2 separate regions of the Homo sapiens genome follow, and region 2 is linked to region 1. Evidence: fine-mapped expression QTL. A gene starts in region 1. The other region holds a variant in brackets. All regions are shown on one strand. Distances are from middle to middle. Region 1 holds the start of EPHA7 (EPH receptor A7). Region 2 has its middle 210 kb from the start of EPHA7.

Region 1 (5,389 bases):
GAGGGAAGGGGGTTTCTTATCTTCCTCTAGCCACCCCCAAATGCCCCAGGAGGCCCGGCACCTGCTTCAAGCGGTTCCCAGCGCTAGCCCTTGGGTACTGCGGGCCGCCTCGGGGCTTGTGAACTCCTAGAACGCCAGCTCTTGGTCGCCGCTGCGCCCTAGAGGCGTCGCCGCCTAGAAGCCGGGCGCACTCGCCGCCCGCCAGCCACAGATCACCACCCTCCCTCCCATCACCCCCGCGCCTTTTATACATCACACTTCTGCATCTAAAGAATTCAGGCTCTTAGAATCAGAATCCTCTTCACGTAGCTTGCACCCAGAAGAGCAAAGAGAACTAGACATTCTGGCTGCAGGAACCTCTCCCCCTAGTGATGCAGTTATTTATAGCCCAAACTCCAGCCCGAGTCTGCGTGTGTTCGCGCGCGGGGTTTCGCCGCGGCGGTGCAAACTTTTCCTCTGGTCCGCTATTCCAGAGGAATCACAGTATGCCAGGGCTGAAGGTTTCTGATCGCTAACGTCAGGGGAGTAGAAATGTGGTTTTGGAGGGGATGAGCGTGCGTTTCTAGCAGATGTCCGTCCTTCTGCAAACGCGTAACCGCCAGCTTGGAGGCACGGGGTTCTCTGAATGGGTTCAGCATCTATACAGGTTGCAGATGTGGAAAGTGGGGTCAGAAGGTCAGGCTGAAAGAAGGACTAGAATTTGGCGCCGGGTTTGAGGGGGGCTTGAGCGAACTAAGAGGAGTGCACGATGAGAATAAAGAAAAGGTGCACTAAGTTTTCAGAAATAGATGAATCAAGGACCTATATGTAAGTCCCCTCAACACCCCGCCCGATAACCACCATGACCTAAATTTCATAACAGATTCCTCTCCCTCTACACATCAGGAATAAGTAATTATTTCTCTTCTGCTTTTAACAGATCGAAAAATGAAACTTAGATACACAGCCTGAAAGACCAGGGGGGCGACGGGATGAGGGGGGTTGGGGATGGGATTGTGACACTGCTCAAAAGCAAGAGACTTCCATTGACAGGGTTTATTTTTCCCCAGCTCCAACTACAGGCACCGAAAGGTATTTTACCTTCTGTCAAAGGTTCAAAGAAGGAAAACATAACCATATACAGGCGTATCTGTAACAGCTTGCCAAATAAAACCTGCCTTCTCCTACCAGAACCAACCCTCAGGGTTCAGGTCTTTGGCAAGGATTGGGCACTCGGATTCCTCAATTGCTGCACTATGGGGCAAATAATTGGGGACTTTGAGTCGCCCAGGCGGCATCCTTACAAATTGCACAGCTCCAGCCCGCCCCCTGCCTCCACGGCCCGACCAAGCCCGCTGGGCTGCCGCTGCCCCCATGACCGCTGGGCCCGACGCGCAGCGCGCGCTGAATGGAGACATCCCCGGCCCTCGGGTCGCGCGCCGCACGCCGCGCTTCACCTCCGCGGCGTTATTGTTCCGTGCTGGCGGCCGAGCGCCAACCGCAGGACCGCGCCGCCGCCTCCGACGCAGTGAGCACTTCATTAGTAACCCGAGCTTTCCGAGCTCATCGAAGTCTCGGTCCCTCTGGGAAGGCTCCGGGCTCCCGCCACTCGCCGGCGGGCTGGCGGAGACGGTAGGGGCTGCATTTCCCAGTCTCCAACCCAACTCTGGCCGCAGCTCCCACAGAAGGCGAATAAGGAGACAAGGAAGACCGAGCTAGAGAGAGATGTGACCCGCCTGAGGTACTAAGAAATAAGCTCGCCGGCAGTTCCTCCAACCCCACCCCACCCCCGTTGCTGCTCACGCCCTCCAGACTGCCCGCGCCAGAAATCCCGCACCCGTCGGATGGACGGCTCCGGGCACAGGGCTGTAGGCGGCTCGGAACAGCCCTGGTTCGCGCTCGCTGGTCCGCCAGGAGCGGCCTCAGCGGTGAGGGGGCGGGGAGCCGGCGGGGGAGGGTCGCCCGGCGCCGGAGGCGCGGCCGGCAGCGCCGCGGACGAGCTGGCTTGTGCAGGTAGACATCTAAATAAATAAGTCAGAACAAACTTTGCTTTCCCATCACCTTACCTTCCTTCGCAGCCTGCGCCTCCCCTGTGTGTGCAAAGCGGAGCAGCCAGATGTAGCATAAAATAATCCATGAAGGGTACCGAGTTTGAAAAACCATGGTGCATGAGCAGGTTTTATTTTAGGTTTCAGTTATCTTGAGTCGTGGATTTTTAAATGCTGTTTGTTCCGAAGTAGCTTTTGTTTTATTGTGCTCCTTGCATCGATTCCCCTTCTCGGTCCCCGATCGGCTGCTCCACGTTTAGCTTTTTTTAATTTCCCCCCCACTCCTGTTCGCTCGCACCGTGTTTGCTGCCTGCAAGTCTCCGACTGCAGACCGGCCGCTTGCTCCACACTCCAATAATATCAATTAGGGGGGGAGGGGGCGGGGCTCCGAGCTGAGAGCCTCCGCCACTCGGGCTGAGTGGCAGGCACAGCCGGCCTGCCAGGAGGCGATTCCCAGGGCCAAGGGGCGGGTCCCGGCGAAATGGCCGCCCCGGCCACGGGGGCGGGGTCCGAGGCAGGAGCCAATCGGTGCCGAGCGGAGTCAGGTTGCTGGTCCAGGATTCCCTCCAGGTTCTGAGCTCGCGCTGGATGTTCAGAGGAGAACGAGGATGGTAGCCGAGGTGTGTGCTGCTTTGGACGCTCTGCTTTTAGCAACCGCAGCTTTCGCGTAGCAGAATAAATCCGAGAATAACGCTCCCAACTTACACTCTTTTCTATAGCTGTACTCCGCGCGATCTTTTAGAAACCAGAGGCGAAGCAAGCCTTCTCTCAGCTACCAAGCACGGAGCCCGGACAGTGAAATGAGCTGTGCCTTTAAGTAAAGTGTGTTTTACTTTTTTGTTGTTAGAACCTCCGCGGGCTGGGTAACTTTGTTTTTTGCCTTTTTGAAAAGTTTCTACTTCTCTTTTTCTGTTACTCCAAGAGCCGTCAGTTTTAGGTACCACCCACCACAATCCCTGAAAGAATAAAGTAACCAAGTGTATTATGTTTAAACAATGTTTCCAAGAGTTTGCAACAAGCTCTGGCAAAAGAAACAGAGGAAAAGGGAGTGGGAAAGGAAGTCTTTTGTTTTAAGCGCCCCTTCTCCTCCGCCCTGTCTTTTCACCATAGTTTGTTGAGCGAAGTGAGACATTAGGAGAGAACCTTCTGATGGTTGCGTATCGTTTTTTTACGCGTTTATCATTTTCTAAGGTTTTCCTTGGATTGCCTCCACTTTGATAGTTTTCCATTTCGCTGCATAAATTACACTGAATTTTAAAGAATGCCACTACGTATTAAATTCATAAAGCAAGACCTTTCTCTTCGCAAGTATTTACCATTTTCAGGAATTATTCAATGCTTATCTTTCAAAGAGAAACTAAGAATAAAAAAAGTCATAACCAATATCTCCAGTTGAATTCATTCAACCCGAACGGCAAGGAAGGCTGCGTAGAGAAATCTGTTTTCCATTAGGCAGTTTCGGACACTTTGTATTCAAGAGGTAGGTAATAAGAGGAAGAACTTTAAAATTTTAATTGCCAAATCTTCAATTTCAAAGGTCACACAGAGTAACTTGATCACATGTTTAAGATGAATTTCTTTTTTTGTCCTATAATTTCTTCCTTTAAAAATATTTCTCAGTCATTTATGATTTCCTTTTATTTCCGATAGATCCAAAGTTTGATCTCACATAAGGCTCCAAACTTTTTCCAACCTTTCTATCTGGAAATATAAAGTAAATTGAGTTGTTTCTGCTTTTTATAGTAGGGAGTTCTCTAAGATGACAACCCCCAGATATTTATTTGTATTTTATGTTAAATTGTCTCCTGTAGTTTTTATTTGCCTAATAAAATAACATGGAAGAGAGATATGAAATTTATTCTTTAAACCTCTTTGATTCTGTAGTTTCTGAAACATTTCTTCAATGTTACATATTCCTAGCCATTATGCCTATTTAATATTTTAGAAAGTGTATCAAAAAGCATCTTCAGTGTCCCTTAAAGGATGCATAGAAAATGTAAATGCGTAATAGATTAACCTTAGAAAGAGACAAAAAAAAATATGGGGAGAACACACTTGTTATAGAGGAGATGAAGCTTTATTTACACAAATAGATGATTTAAGGATGAAACTTGTAAACTAAAACATAAGAGTTAAAAACATAAATCCCTGCACTTAGTCTTTAGAACTCACAGAACTACAAACTTACAAATATTAAACCACTTCTAATAGTTAAAACGAATTCTCCAGGATTTCAACACTTTCCCCAGGGTCTCATCCCCACTTCTTAAAATGACACCAAGGTGGCCTTTAAAGTTTAAAATATTCCTTTCATCTATTGAATGACTAATACTCAATGATGTGAATACAAATACTTTTCCATTAAAACCAGGAAACCAAAGAAGTAACATCCTTCACTCCTCTGATGAGTGTAGGTGGTATAGTGAGTCCTCTTTTTGTGTCCCTTCTCTCTGTCAGACACAGGGGCATGTGTAACTTTACTCTTATTTTTAGAGACAAGAAGCTTCACATTAAATGCACATGTGCCAGGCTGCTGACAGTTCTCCCTGCATAGCTGCACAGTGATACTGATTTTTAGGTTTTTCAAACTTCTCTTCTTTCTTTTGTAGTATCTAGATATATTGACAAAGAATTCGGAGCATTTAAATAAAAATAAATGACAGTCAAGAAGACAGTGTTCAGCATACAGTATATGATTAATATATAAATTTACACTCGACTGTATTTGACTAATGATAAAGCATATAGACCTATTTGTACATGAAGCCACTGACATAAAAATTATCAGTATACAAAACTTTCTCATTTTAAAATAACATAATGGTGAACTTCCTCACACCATTACAATTTATTTTAGCTTCATTTTATGATTTAAGCATATTATTTCTAATCAATTATTTTTAATAATGCGATGTGTTTGTATATAAAGTGAATTCAAAAGGAACTTGTCTTCCTGAGCAATACCAAATAGTGTATGAGACCAACACCTGTGCGCCAAAGCAATAATTCTGAAAACTAGTTTTACATTTTTATGCATTCATTGTACAACTAAGTTGATAGCGTCGTCCACATATATTTAGTGAATTTTAAGTAAATGGAAACAGAGACTAAGACCTTAATATTTCAATTTTATATCCCCTCTGTTGCAACATCTATAATAAATGTATAGTGGAAAGATGAAAAACGCCTCTCTTCAGATACTAAGGAGATATACCCAATTTTAATGCATTTTGTATTATTTATTTGTATAATTACCAATAATCACATGACTGTACATGTAGGGAAATGTCCAAATTCAAGACACATTCTAAATGAGGGTACACCTGCTATTTTGTTTTAACTTGTTACAATACTAATATTTA
Region 2 (5,389 bases), 210 kb before region 1:
GCCCAAGACATGCGGCAAGGCCTTGGAGGATGAGAAACCACAAGGGAAAGGATGAGGAAAATTGAGACACCAGACATATGAGTGAAGAGCTCATCTTGGAAGTTCATCTTCTGGCCTAGATGCTCTGAATGACTACATATAAATCAGCGACAAATCTCCCAGTCAAATTATTCCCAAGTTCCTGACCTTCAAAGCTGTGAGCAAAGTAAACTGGGTGTTACAAGCCACTAATATTTCAAGTAATTTTTTTCCCAGAAATACATAACTAAAACAGAATTTATGTCTCAAAATGAGGTCCCGCTGCAACAAAAAATTGAAACAAATTAGCATTGCTTTGAGACTGGAAGCCAGGCAGAAGATACAAGAGCCTTGAGAAGACTATTTGTGAAGAATGAAGGACGTCATTATCAGAACTGTAGAAGAGGTGCCCTCTTGTTATATAATGGAAGGAAGTTGGGCAACAGTTATCTACCTATGAGAACATAGAAAATAGAATATGCCAACCTATTATTTTTGCTAAGGAGATTTCTAGGCAGAATGATGAAAGTAACAACTTTTTTTTTTTTTTTAAAGCAGCAAATGATAAAAGAGAGAGAAAGAAGTTTAAACTGGAATTATAGAAGGCCCAGGATTGTCTTTCTAGCCAGTGAAAATTTCTCGAAGCAAGAAATGGCCTCATGGTAAAGACAAAGTCAAGGGTGCAACTCTACAATCCTTTATTGGAGCTTAGAAAAATTTAAGAATATGTTCAAAGACCCTCTAAGAAATAAACAATGAAACATCCATGAATCTTGCAGATATAATTTCCCAATTTTTAAAATTTTTTTCTGAGTAGTCCTGAATGACCACATTTTTAACTTTTATGGATACATTATAGTTGTACATATTTATGCAGTACCTGTGATATTTTGATACAAGTATACAATGTTCAATGATCAAATCAGGGTAATTGGGATATTCATCACCTTAAACATTTATTATTTCTTTGTGTTACAATCTAACACAATCTAAGAACACTCTAAGCCCACTTTTCTAGTTCTTTTAAAATATACAAAAATATTTATTTATATATATAAATTATTGTTAACTATAGTTGCCCTATTTTGCCACCAAACACTAGATCTTATTTCTTCTAACTGTATTTGTGTACCAATTAACCAACCCTTCTTTATTTCCCCCTCCCCACCACCCTTCCCAGTCTCTAGTAACCATCATTACACTCTCCATCTCCATGAGATCAATTTTTTAGCTTTCACATATGTGTGAGAACATATGACATTTGCTTTCTGTACCTGGCTTACTTCATTTGACATAATGTTCTCCAGTTTCATTATGTTGTTGCAAATGACAAGATTTCATTCTTACTTATGACTGAATAATATTCCATTGTGTATATGTACCACTTTTTAAATTTGTTCATCTATTGATGTTCATATAGGTTGATTCCAGATTTTTGCTATTGTGAATAGTGCTGCAATAAACACAGGAATGTAGGTATCCCTTTAATATATCGATTCCTTTTCCTTTGGATATATATCCAGTAATAGATTACTAGATCATATGGTAGTTCTATTTTTAGTTTGGTTTTTTTTTTGAGAAATCTTCATACTGTTTTCCATAGTGGCAGTATTAATTTGTATTCCCACCAACAGTGTATAACAGTTAGCATTTCTCTGCATCCTCACCAGCATCTATTACTTTTCTGTCTTTTTAATAACAGTCACATTCTAACTGGGATAAGATGATATCTCATTGTGGTTTTGATTTGCATTTCCCTCATGATTAGTGATGTCAAGCATTTTTTCATATACGTGATGGCAATTTATATATCTTCTTTTGAGAAATATCTATTCAGATCTTTTGCTCATTTCCTAACTGGATAATTTGTTTTTTCTGCTGTTGAGTTGTTTGAGTTCCTTGTGTGCCCTGGTTGTTAATCCCTTGTCAATTGAATAATTTGAAAATAATTTATTTCATTCTGTAGATTGCCTCTGCATTTTGTTAATTGTACCCTTTGCTGTGCAGATGATTTTAGCTTGATATAATCCCATTTGTCCATTTTTGCTTTGGCCTCTACCTTTGAGGTCTTACTCAAGGATTCTTTTCTCTGACCACTAATGTCCTGGAGAAATTTTCCAATGTTTACATCTAGTTGTTTCATACTTGCAGGTCTTACATTTAAATCTTTACTCCATTTTGATTTGATTTTGGTGTATAAATAAATTTCTAGACACATATAGCCTATTAAGATTGAACCACGAAGACACATAAAACTTGACTAGATCAATAATAAGAAACAAGATAGCAGTAGTGAAAAGTCTTCCATCAAAGAAAAGCCCAG[G/C]ATCTAATGGCTTAACTGCTGAATTCTGCCAAACATTTAAGGGAGAAGTAATACCAGTGATACTCAAACTATTCCAAAAAAATTAAGAAGGGAACACTATTAAACTCATTCTGTATGGCCAGTATTACACTGATACCAAAACCAGACAAAGACACAATAGAAAAAGAAAACTGCAGGCCAATCTCTCTGATGAATATAGATGCAAAAAACCTCAACAAAATATTAGCAAACCATATTCAACAACACATTCAAAGATCATTCACTATGACCAAGTGGAATTCATCCTGTGGATGCAAGGATGGTTCAATATATGTAAATCAATAAATGTGATACATCACATCAGCAGAATAAAGGACAAAAACCATATGATTATTTCAGTAGTTAAAAAAAGAATTTGACAAAATTCAACATTCCTTCATGATAAAAATTCTCAACAAACTGTATATAAAAGGAACATACCTTAACACAGTAATGGAATGGCCATATATAACAAACCCATGGATAGTATCATACTAAACAGGGAAAAACTGAAAGCCTTCCTTCTAAGATCTGGAACAAGACAAATATACCCACTTTTACCATTTCTATTCAACATATTACTAGAAGTCCTAGCCAGAACAATTAGACAAAAGAAAGAAATACAATGCATCCAAATTGGAAAAAAAGAAAACAATTTATTTTTGCTTGCAGGTTATATGATCTTATATTTATAGAAACCTAAGATGCCACCAAAAAACTATTAACAGATAAAGTCAGTAAAACTGCAGGATACAAAATCCACATACAAAAAAATTAGTAGTATTTCTGTATGCCGATAGTGAACAATCTGAAAAAGAAACCAAGAATGTAATCCCATTTACAATAGCTAATAATAAAACAAAACTCTTTGGTTAAGGAATAAACTTATCCAAAGAAGTGAAAAACCTCTACAATGAAAACTGTAAGACATTGATGAAAGAAATCGAAGAGAACTCACAAAAAAGGAAAGATATTTTGTTTGTGGATTAGAAGAATCAATATTATTAAAATGTCCCTACTATCCAAAGCTATCTACAGATTCAATGAAATCCCTATCAAAATATCAATGACATTATTCACAGAAATAGAAAAAAGCCCCTAAAATTTGTATGGAACCACAAACGACCCAGAATAGACAAATAAATCCTGAGCAAAAAGAACAAAGCTGGAGGCATCACATTACCTGACTTCAAATTATGCTACAAAGCTGTAGTAACAAAAACAGCATGGTAGCTAGGTGTGGTGGCATGTGCCTATAGTCCTAGATACTTGAGAGGCTGAAGCAGGAGCTCAGGAGGTTGCAACCAGCCTGAGCAATATAGTGAGACCCATCTAGAAATAAATAAATAAACCCAGCATGATACTGGCATAAAAACTGACACTGACCAATGGAGAAAAATAGAGAAGCCAGAAATAATTCCACACATTTATGGTCAACTCATTTTTGGCAAAGTCACCAAGAACACATCAGGGAAAGGACAGTATCTTCCTTCAATAAATAGCGCTGGGTAAACTGGATATTCAAATGCAGACAAAGGACATGCTTTTTAGAACACTCTGCTAGACAAAAGGACTTTTAAAAATTCTAAGAGTGTTGTCCTGTAGCACCTTGACTGTCAGGGTAAAGAGGAACTTGTATCTAAGAGATCAGCAGATCCCACTCATGTTTATTAGAGTGAACACTAATGTGATTGATCAGAAACATAAAGTTTGCAAGGAAATTTTACTCGCTATCTTGGATTGAAAAAGAAACAGTTGATGTTCTCACTTACAAGTGGGAGCTAAATGATGAGAACACATAGACACAGAGAGGGGAACATCACACACCCGGGCCTTTCAGAGGGTGGAAGGTAGGAGGAGGGACAGGATCAGGAAAAATAACTAATGGGTACCAGGCTTAATACCTGGGTGATGAAATAGTCTGTACAACAAACCCCCATGACACAAGTATACCTATGTAACAAACCTGTACTTGTTTCTCTTTACTAAAAATAAAAGTTAAAGAGACAATTCAAGTAGGAAAAAAAAGTCTATAATAGGAAGTAGGCTGAGAAAGTCACAAACACAGACCATAAGTCCAGAGAGCAGAAACTAAAACAGCATATCACTCCCATGGAACAGAATCAGGGCCTGATTAAAAACAAACAAACAAACAAAAAAAGACATAATATGCCTAGCTAGAATTCAGAAATGCTTTAGACTAGTGACGGCTACGTTATTCCCATTCCATACTCTCCAACTTTTTTCACTGAAGAGTTTATTGCATTTGTCCTATTCTTGCAGCCACATTGTGTGGTGGGTGTGAGGAAACCAGCTAACTTGTCTCCTTAGTTCACAGCTTTCGCTGAAAGTAACTACACTTGAGAAACCTTTATCATACCAGGACCTGATTTAGATGATGAGCTCCTGGACTTTGAGCTAATATTGTACTGGAATGAGAACATGTGTGTCTTGAAATGGAGATGAGCGTATTTTGTATATGGGAGAGATATGAATTGTAATAGCCACAGGCCAACTGGTAGATAGTCTTGGTCCCTATACACATGCTGAGTCTCATATCAAGAGGTGGAGCCTAATGCCCTTCCCTGTGAATAGGGACTTTCCCGGTAACTTACTTGACTAACAAAGTATAGTGAAAATGACTTTTGGGACCTTGGAGGCTACATCATAAGAAGTTTTTTAGTTATTTTGAGCCTCTTAGAATGCTTGCTCTGGGGACATATTGCCATGTTGTCTAAAGCCCAAAGACATATGCAAAGTTTACATGTATGTGTTTCACTCAACAGTCCTAAAAAAGCTCTCAGCCAGCAGCCTGCCCACACTGCCAGCCTTATGAATGAGCCATCTTAGATATTCAACTCAGTTGAGCCTTCATATGACTCTAGCCTCAACCATCATCTGTCTGCAACATGACGGACTCTGAATAAGAACTGCTAAGTCAATCCATGAACCATGAGACAGAAAAATGAGTTGTTCTTTTAGGCCACTAAAGTTTAGGGTTGTTTGTGACACAACAGTGGGTAACCTATA

Evidence for each region. PIP is the estimated chance that this variant, and not a neighbour inherited with it, causes the effect. A credible set is the group of variants that fine-mapping cannot tell apart.
Region 2: its variant is the best candidate, but not a certain one, in a credible set for the expression of EPHA7 in esophagus muscle (GTEx, PIP 0.51).

Annotation. Positions count from the first base shown.
Region 1 is chr6:93,417,200-93,422,588 of GRCh38, forward strand. It overlaps EPHA7 (EPH receptor A7), which reads right to left and starts at 2,360. Exons shown (of 17, transcript NM_004440.4): 1 at 2,046-2,360. The coding sequence starts at 2,142. RefSeq lists a silencer at 2,408-2,607.
Region 2 is chr6:93,203,707-93,209,095 of GRCh38, forward strand. No RefSeq gene overlaps it. Among named protein-coding and RNA genes, the nearest start is that of EPHA7, 210 kb to the right of the region's middle. The variant G/C (reference allele first, on the strand shown) is at 2,342.